Linked DNA regions of Homo sapiens: all the other regions are linked to region 2. Evidence: fine-mapped expression QTL. A gene starts in region 2. Each other region holds a variant in brackets. All regions are shown on one strand. Distances are from middle to middle.

Region 1 (2,768 bases), 44 kb before region 2:
CCACAGCTCCCTTCAGGGCACCAAAAACTTTATTGCCAGTGGTAGTTCTGGCAAGGCCTGCATCCAAATAGCAGGTAAAGGCACTTGGCTGACCATCAATGCTTTCCACAATGTATTCATCGCCAGTCACCTCCACTTGGCCTTCATAGATCTTGTCCATGCCAAACCTACTGAGAAGCCTGCGGGCCAGCGGCAGGCCAGTACAATATGCTGCAGCATAATTTGTCGGGCCAACCTTCACACCATATTTTGGCAGTTCGTGTGCATATGCTGTGCAGACTATCATATCCCCCTCTATATGGGCATAAGCAATCTGACAAATGATATCTCTGTTTGTTACACGAACTATCATCCTGTATTTGAGTGTGTTGTATTTATTTTTATCCTGTATCACCAAGCGTTTCCGAGTATCGTAATCAGTTTTACCCTCTCATCATCGTCTTCTAAATTTCACTTGGTATCTCTTAAAGTAGGCCTTATTCTTAACAACTTTAACAAACCCCATCCTGCAGAACAGAGACCCGCGTCCACAGCTCAACAGAGACCAGCAGGCACAGCGGCGCTGGGGCAGGGAGAAGGGGAAAGCTTTTTAATCTTCAGTGGGTACCTGGAACAAGGTATCTGTGTAAAATGCTTTTATTATTCAACCAGACTTTAGGCTAAGAAAGCCCATTTTAATGGGTTTATTTTAATATTCCAGCCCTCATGCTCAGTCACCTGTTTCTCCAGTTCTTTAATGTTTAACTTATACATTCATTAGAATTATAATAGAGGGTCAGTGGAAACTGACTGTTCTGGTTGCTAATGGGAGCCTGCCCTGCCACAAACTTGGTGGAAGTATTTCTGTGTCTTAATAGTTTTTTGGAGGGTAGAATGTAAGAGCGATGAACTAGGACATTTGGCAGAAGAAATCTCTAAGCCAAGTTTTCAGGGTACTGCATAGCTTCTCTTAACTGCTTATAGTAAACTGTGAGAAGAGAAAAGATAGGACTTCTAATCAAAAGGGAAGCAGATTAGCTGGGCATGGTGGCACACACCTGTAGTCCCAGCTACTCTGCAGGCTGAGGTAGGAGGGTTGCTTCAGCACAGGAGGTCGAGGCGGCAGTGAGCTATGATCGTACCACAGTCTGGGCAACAGAGTGAGATCCCATCTCAAAAAAAAATGCTAATTATTATTATTATTATCATTGAGATGGAGTCTTGCTCTGTCGCCCAGGCAGGAGTGCAATGGTGCGATCTCGGCTCACTGCAACCTCTGCCTCCTCCCGGGTTCAAGTGATTCTCCTGACTCAGCCTCCTGAGCAGCTGGGATTACAGGCGCCCGCCACCACACCCGGCTAATTTTTGTATTTTTAGTAGAGATGGGGTTTCA[T/C]CATATTGGCCAGGCTGGTCTCGAACTCCTGACTTCGTGTTCCACCCACCTCAGCCTCCCAAAGTGCTGGAACTACAGGCGTGAGGCACCTCACCTGGCCAAAGACTATTATTATCATTATTTTATCCAAAATGTGTTTATTGAGATGGTTTCCCACTCATCTTGATTCAGGGTGCTTTTAGTGCTGCTTTCTCCTGAAGGACCATCCTTCCATAAGCCTTGCTTTTCCTCCTGTAGGCTGGCAGAGGAAAGTGCAGCAGCCAACACCCAAAACCACTGTTGGCACATGGCTAAAGACCGTGGTGATTTTATAGCATCCTGGGCATTTCACATCCATGAAGTAGGAATTGGGGCTCTGCACCAGGTGTTTCTTCTTGTGTTTCCTCTTCTCCTCTTCTGGAGAGGGATGAAGGAGATCCTTTGCAAGAAGCATGTTCTTGTGGGTAGGTCGTCAGTGCTGGAAAGGGCCAAAGAAAATTATTTTTAAAGGGAAGTTGAACATAAAGATTTGGAAAATTAACAGCCTGGCCTTGTAAAGAATTTTTTAAATAAGTTCAGGAGACAAAACCAACTGTGTGGCCAACTGACCGTTTCATAAGGAGATTAGTATGACTAGAATGCCAGATGCTATTCATTAAGACAATGGGAGAATGACCCTGAAGACATTTCAGAGAGCACTGAGAATGCCACAACCATCACAGGCCCAAAGTGCCAGGTCCTTGAGGGAATAACAATTTTAAGGAAGGAGCCCAGGATTCCAGTGCAACCCAAGATGCCTGTGGGAACTTGGGGCTCACTGACTATGCTGCCTCATGTATCTGCTCCCTGAAGTCAAGCAAAGCTTCCCCATCTGTGGTTCAGGTGGGCCCAGGTACAGCTCAGATCACTCCTCCAGAAAACACAAGTAGTAAAACATGGGGCAGCATGCATGTGGTGCTAACTGCAGGCATGCTAAATCCACAGCTGTGAAGGCATGGCTTTCTCCACCTAATTTCCAAGGAAGCCTTGAAGAATGCCTCAGGGCCCAATCAGAGAACTGCTGTAGGGGCAGGGCTGCCATAGAAAGTTCCCACTAGGGCAATGTCCAGCAGAACTATTGGGTTGGGGCCACCACAGAGTGCCCTCACTAGGGCAATACTCAGTGGAGCCATAGGGACAGGGCCACCCCTGAGTTCCTAGACCCAGACCTGTAGATCCGGTAGTGCGTATTCCAACCTGTAATAGACATAGACACCTGACTACAACCTGTAGAACTGTGGCATGGGCTGACTCCAGCAGTCATGGCAGCAGGGTCCCCTGGGGGCTTGGGAACCTAAGCACTACCCCAGTGTCTCTGTAAGGTGAGAGGTAGAATCAAAAAAGCTGACTCTCACACCTCAAGATTGAATTTTGTTGG
Region 2 (2,768 bases):
ATCAATGAACTATTAGAAATTGCAATGTTTTTGTAGGTCAAAACAATTCAATATTGACAATTTTATATGATTCAGCCTAATACATCATTTTTTCCATCAGCCATATTGCATGTTATTATTTATATATACGTTTATTTAGTTAGCCTATCTGTTCTCTGTGAGGAACATTACACAGTTTCTGAGATTTTGTTACGATAGAAGTCAGCATTGATAAGCCTCTGCGCACCTGTTTTAATGTAGGATCATTGGGAACTGAGCAGTAGCTTACAGGGCTTGGGAGGGGATTTAACCATTTAGTCAACCTCCACTCACATCACCCTCCCTTCTTCGATAATGGGCAATTGAGAAAGGGCAAATGTGTGTAAAAACTATGCAGATGCAGTTTCAGGATTATTTTCTTCTTTTCTGCAGTGTCTTTTCCCAAGCTACATCAGCGTCTAAATTTTGGAGTTACTGATGCTTCCGTTATTTCTGCAGATAGAATATTATGTCGTAAATAATGTTTACTTGTCCATTAGTATTATATAAAAGTGCCTGTTTCTCCCCACTCCAGCTATCATTGATTATTGGTAAAAATTTTAATGTATCCAATTCTAATAGGCAAAGAAAGGCTCTCCTACTTAGATCTTAGGTGGGGGTCTAAGTTCATATTTTTGTTTTACAAAAATTGAATAGCCAGTGTTTTTGAGTTGAATGATCTATCCATTCCGTATAGGAGAGTTTAATTATATTGTGATTTTGGGGGAGATAATTTTCACAATTTACCCCCTCAAAATGTAGAAAGTAGAAAAAGGGTAGAAAAATCGCACCAAATTTGAACAATGTAGCATGCTTTTAGAGTTAGGGATATTTTCTTTTGGAAGGATTTCAAGTCTGGCGTATTTGCATTGATTGTGGTTATGGCGCATTTAACTTTTCCAAACCAGCTTTTTTGTACCGCACATAGGAAGACCTGAGGGTGAGTGTAAATTAGGATTGTTTGGCCAGTGGTGTGTGCAAAAATTTATTGTAGAACCAAGAATTATTTCTTTAGTATTTTACACATTTTAAAAAACAGGTAGACATGTCCATTGATCCCAGGTTGCTTATGGTTTCTAGAGGCCCCCTCTCATTGCAACAGTGCTGTGGGGCCCTAGGGGTCCAGTAGCCCCCTCCCCCCAGGTCATTCCGGTGAGGGAGGGAGCTGGGACCCCTGCACTGCGGCAAACAAGCACGCCTGCGCGGCCGCAGAGGCAGGCTGGCGCGCATGCTCAGGCGGGGATGTGTGCGAAGCCTGCCGCTGCTGCAGCGAGTCTGGCGCAGAGTGGAGCGGCCGCCGGAGATGCCTGACGCATCTGTCTGAGGAGCGGTCAGTGACGCGATGGAGCGGGCAAGGTCAGCTGTGCCGGTGGCTTCTCTCAAGAGACAGCCTGGGGAGCGGCCACTTTTATTCATCAGATATTCCAAGTTTTTAGGACTTGGAGTACTGAATAAACGGAATTTGGGCCCTAAAGTCCTTTGTTCTGGAGAACCAGATCCGGAATGTTCAGAGGCTTGCTGTTGTGCCGTTCTGCCCCGATGGTATCCTGTCCGCTCGCATTGGGGCGCGTCCCCCATCCGCCCCCAACTGTGGTGTCGCGACAGGTCCTATTGCGGGTGTCTGCGGTGGGAAGGGCGGTGGTGACTGGGAGCATGCGGGGTAACCGCAGTGGGCAAGGGACATGGGTGGAGGTGGGTACATCAGGGTGATTGCAGTTCCGTGTGGCGAGGGTACGTGGGGGGACCAGTGCATAGGGATTTTAGGCGGAGGTAGGTATATTGGAGTGATTGTGGCGGGGCGAAGGTACGTGAAGTGATCGGTATTTAGGGGGTGTTGAGCGCAGGTAGGTGTATAATAGTGACCACTGCGTGGTGGAGCAGGGTACGTGGGGCGACTGGGGGGGGAATTCGTCGCAGTGACCGAGGCGAGGAGGCTATGGCAGTGGACCAGGGGGATGAGTCGGTGTGACAGTGGTGGGGGTTGTGTTGGTGGTCGCGGCGCGGGGAGAGTCCGTAGGAAGTGGCTGGGAGGTAGGGGGAAGGCGGCGACAGTGGGTATTGGCGGCGGTGGGCATTGGCAGCGGGTAGGCATGGCGGTGGTGGACTTTGGCGGCGGTAGGCATGGCGGCGGTGGGCATGGCATGGAGGCGGTGGGCATGGCGGCCGCGGGGCCTGTCGCTGTCCGGAGTGACTAAGGGACGCTGAATGATTGCTGTGTAGAGGAGGGGGCATCAGAAGGGGCAGTAGCACAGTCCGCAGCCTTTAATTTTCCTGTGACCTGCGATGGTCATCTGGTTTGCCTACTGTGGTGGTGGTGCTTTTTTATTAAAACTGCGCAATGCCTACACTGCCGCAGGGGCTGCAGAAATGCGTGGAATCCTTGCGTACCCTTTAGGAACCCTCGCTTTAGAGGCTATGGCATAAGAAGACTGGAATGATGTGCAGAACTTGCATTTACAGATCTTTTGACTGATAGGCCAGGTGATGCCTGGGGGTTACTTTTTTTTCATTGTTTCTCTCTGTTGGGAACCAGGTCTTGGAAGGCTATGTCGAAATAACCTGGGGGTCTGTGTTGCGTCACTGCCATTGTGCAGCTCCTTCAAGATGGCCGCCGCTGCAGCGGCTTAGATCTGCGCAAGCGCTTCAGCGGGGGGGTGGCCGCTTCCTCCCTGTAGAGCCGCCAGTGGGGAGGGGGCAGGTGGTGTGTGTTCAGCTTCTGCTGTTTCGGAGTTTCAGCCGTACCCTCTTTA
Region 3 (2,768 bases), 35 kb after region 2:
CAAAAGGCTAAATAGACTGACTTTTTTGATATTTTTCCCTTATAGGGAGAAAGAAACATTAACGGTTTATCAGATGCCTTGACTGTACTTTTTACTGCTTTGTCTTCAAGGCCTAGTGTAATAATTAACATCTAGTATGTGTTTGATGGATAGCCAATTTTTGCTTCATTGGTATGTTGTTACCACAGTCATTGGTAGAGTCAATATATGAATGAAGAAAGTATAACAAATTTGCCCTCTAGTAGAGTACAGGCAAAGTATGGCCGTCAGTTTCACCCTGATTTTTTTTCCTCCATTCTTTTTTAGGGTTTAGGTCAAGAACAAGGGCATTTCATTGTACCACATAGCTGAGAGTAGGGAATTGGGACATACTGTCTTGCTTTAAATTAAAGTTGTCTGTTTCATCAAGTAGAGAGGTTCCTAAGATATTGCCAGATTTCTGACTCGGGGTTTGTTAAAAATAGAAAAGGTAGTTCCTTAAGGTTGTATTTTATTGGATGCCTCCACCTGCTTCAGGCTAGCTCACTGGAGAATAAATATTCCAGGTTAAAAAAAAAAAAGCATGTGTTCACGTGAACTTGTCCTTTGAGCAAACCTGTTGGAAATCAAGAGGTCATTGCTGTTGGAGAGGATAAGAGGGTGTACTTGTTGGTGTGTTAAGAGTAGTTCACAACATAAAAATAAATGTAAATGCATCTATTATATTTGGGTTGGCAAAATATATTGGTTATTTACTCTGTTGATTCCTGTAGTGTACATAAATATGATCTACAACTCTGTGAACAAAAAGGCTTGAAAAATTGTTCTGAAAATGGACAAATCATGAACAGATAATTGAACAAGAAAATAAGCAGAAAGTAAATTTGTGAAATATTTCAAACTCATTTACATTCAGAAACATCTTTTTAAGATCACTGTGATACATTCGACTGTCAATTCTGAAGAGACGTATAAAGGAAATGCCAGCTAAGGAGCAAGGAAACAGCTTTCATTCATGGGCTAAATTGCAGCTTAAAAAAGATGGACCAGGATTATTTCCTTTAGAAACTTACTGTACAAAAGATACTGTTCACCCCATTAGAGAACTGATTTGAAGTTACTCTTCCCTGTGAGGGCTCTGTCATCTTAACTGTATTCACATACTTTCAACTGTTCCCCTTGCTGCTAACCTCAGGTTCTTTAGTTCATCTATCTGGCAGAGCTGATTTGGGGAAAACAAGACAAACCTT[C/G]TCAGGTTTTCTTAATAAATAAGCAGTTGTCATGTTTCAAGAGTTTTAGAAATGAGCAATAATCAAGGAAGAGGACAACGATTGCATACGTTTATAATATTTAGAACATCTTTTGCCACAATAAACACTGGAAACCACCCACTTGTGGACACCAAACATTTGGATTTGTATATTTTGTGGCATTCCCTCACTCTAATCCTCTCATCCTTAAAAATTTTCAGAAATTTTTGCAGCAACAAACACTGATTGCAACATATGATTTAGGGTAGATTTATGAACCATTTTTTCACTGAAATACATCAACAGGAGTGAGTAGTCTGAGTGACCACCCCAGCATGGAGAAAACTGTAGTTTACAGATTCTTCTGGAGCATTTTTATTTCTAGATTGCGGTGGAAGTCTAACCCCCCTTGGAGATGTCTGCCTTAAAGGGTCTTTGGCCAGGGTCCTCTGTAGAGCCATAGTCCAGATCTACTCTATTTGTGTGCTCCTTACAACATCAGAACAGCAACTCTCAATCCGGATTCATCCCCAGAATGCCGTCTGAGTCACAGCGTGGCAGGTGCATAAAGAATTATCTACTGAATTGAGAAACATTTCAAATATATAAAACTTGAAATATTTTGGGTAGTCTGTACAAACTCAAGTTGACAAGCCAACCCTGCAGGAATATATGGATAGAAGGGGAAGGATAACATGTTGAATTCAGCTACATGCCTCATCAGCTAGAAAACCTTGGAAGAAAGAAAGATAGATTGATACTTGCCTGAACTTCATCAACCAATAATATTTTTTTTCTTGCTATGGAGAGTCCACTCGCCTTTGGAAGATTTACCAGTAAAAGCCCTGCACATGATATACTTGTGTGCACATGCAATAAGGACATCATTCCCCAACTCCTGCTAGCATTGTGAAAGAGCTCCAAATATTCAAATAATATAAACTTTTTTTCGTGGACATTTAGCTTACGAGTTTGTTTAAATATGTGGGAAAATTATGTTTAGATAATAGTATTGAAATGAGAATGTAAGATACACATTGAATGATAAATGTGTATGAATTGTTCATTGTGCCTTAGGTAAGCCAGACAGTGAAATTAAATGTGTAATAGTTGTATTTTTTTGCATAATCTTGGAATGTAATTAGTTAAAAGCAAACACTTAGATTTTGAACATGAATCTGTTAAGCTTGTTAATGTAGTTGCTGTGGCTAAATAACTGGTTTCCTGGGGAAGCTTCTATTTGCTAGAATTTTATTCTGGAACAGTTGTTAGAAAGGAATTCTCAGGTCACCTTTTAAAGATATACACAATTCTGTATTCACTTTTTGAGTGCATAAGGGTAATAGAAAATGACATGGGAAGCGTTAATTAGAAAAAAAGGCATTTTGTTTATGTGCATTTGAGGATACAGTGTTTGAAGTTTCTAAATAATTGTTTTATGACATTTTCTTGGTACATAGATATTGCTAACAATTAGTTTGCTGAAGTATGTAGAAACATTTTAAGAAATGATTTTAGAAATATAATTGTTAAAGTACC

What was found.
Region 1: its variant is fine-mapped to the expression of SNRPN in monocytes (Fairfax 2014, PIP 0.95). The same link has a PIP of 0.9 or more in monocytes after LPS and monocytes after interferon gamma.
Region 3: its variant is fine-mapped to the expression of SNRPN in whole blood (TOPMed, PIP above 0.99).

The regions. Positions count from the first base shown.
Region 1 is chr15:24,909,321-24,912,088 of GRCh38, forward strand. All of the region lies in intron 3 of SNHG14 (small nucleolar RNA host gene 14), which reads left to right. It also overlaps a transcript of SNRPN not described here, the pseudogene RPL5P1 and the pseudogene RPS27P2. Among named protein-coding and RNA genes, the nearest start is that of SNRPN, 44 kb to the right of the region's middle. The variant T/C (reference allele first, on the strand shown) is at 1,373.
Region 2 is chr15:24,953,689-24,956,456 of GRCh38, forward strand. It overlaps SNRPN (small nuclear ribonucleoprotein polypeptide N), which reads left to right and starts at 1,299. Exons shown (of 10, transcript NM_003097.6): 1 at 1,299-1,374. SNURF (SNRPN upstream open reading frame) reads left to right here and starts at 1,299. Exons shown (of 3, transcript NM_001394334.1): 1 at 1,299-1,374. The coding sequence starts at 1,361. The region is part of intron 4 of SNHG14 (small nucleolar RNA host gene 14); the gene reads left to right. RefSeq lists enhancers at 1,714-2,279, 2,280-2,768, 2,670-2,768.
Region 3 is chr15:24,988,950-24,991,717 of GRCh38, forward strand. All of the region lies in intron 15 of SNHG14 (small nucleolar RNA host gene 14), which reads left to right. Among named protein-coding and RNA genes, the nearest start is that of SNORD108, 3.4 kb to the left of the region's middle. The variant C/G (reference allele first, on the strand shown) is at 1,230.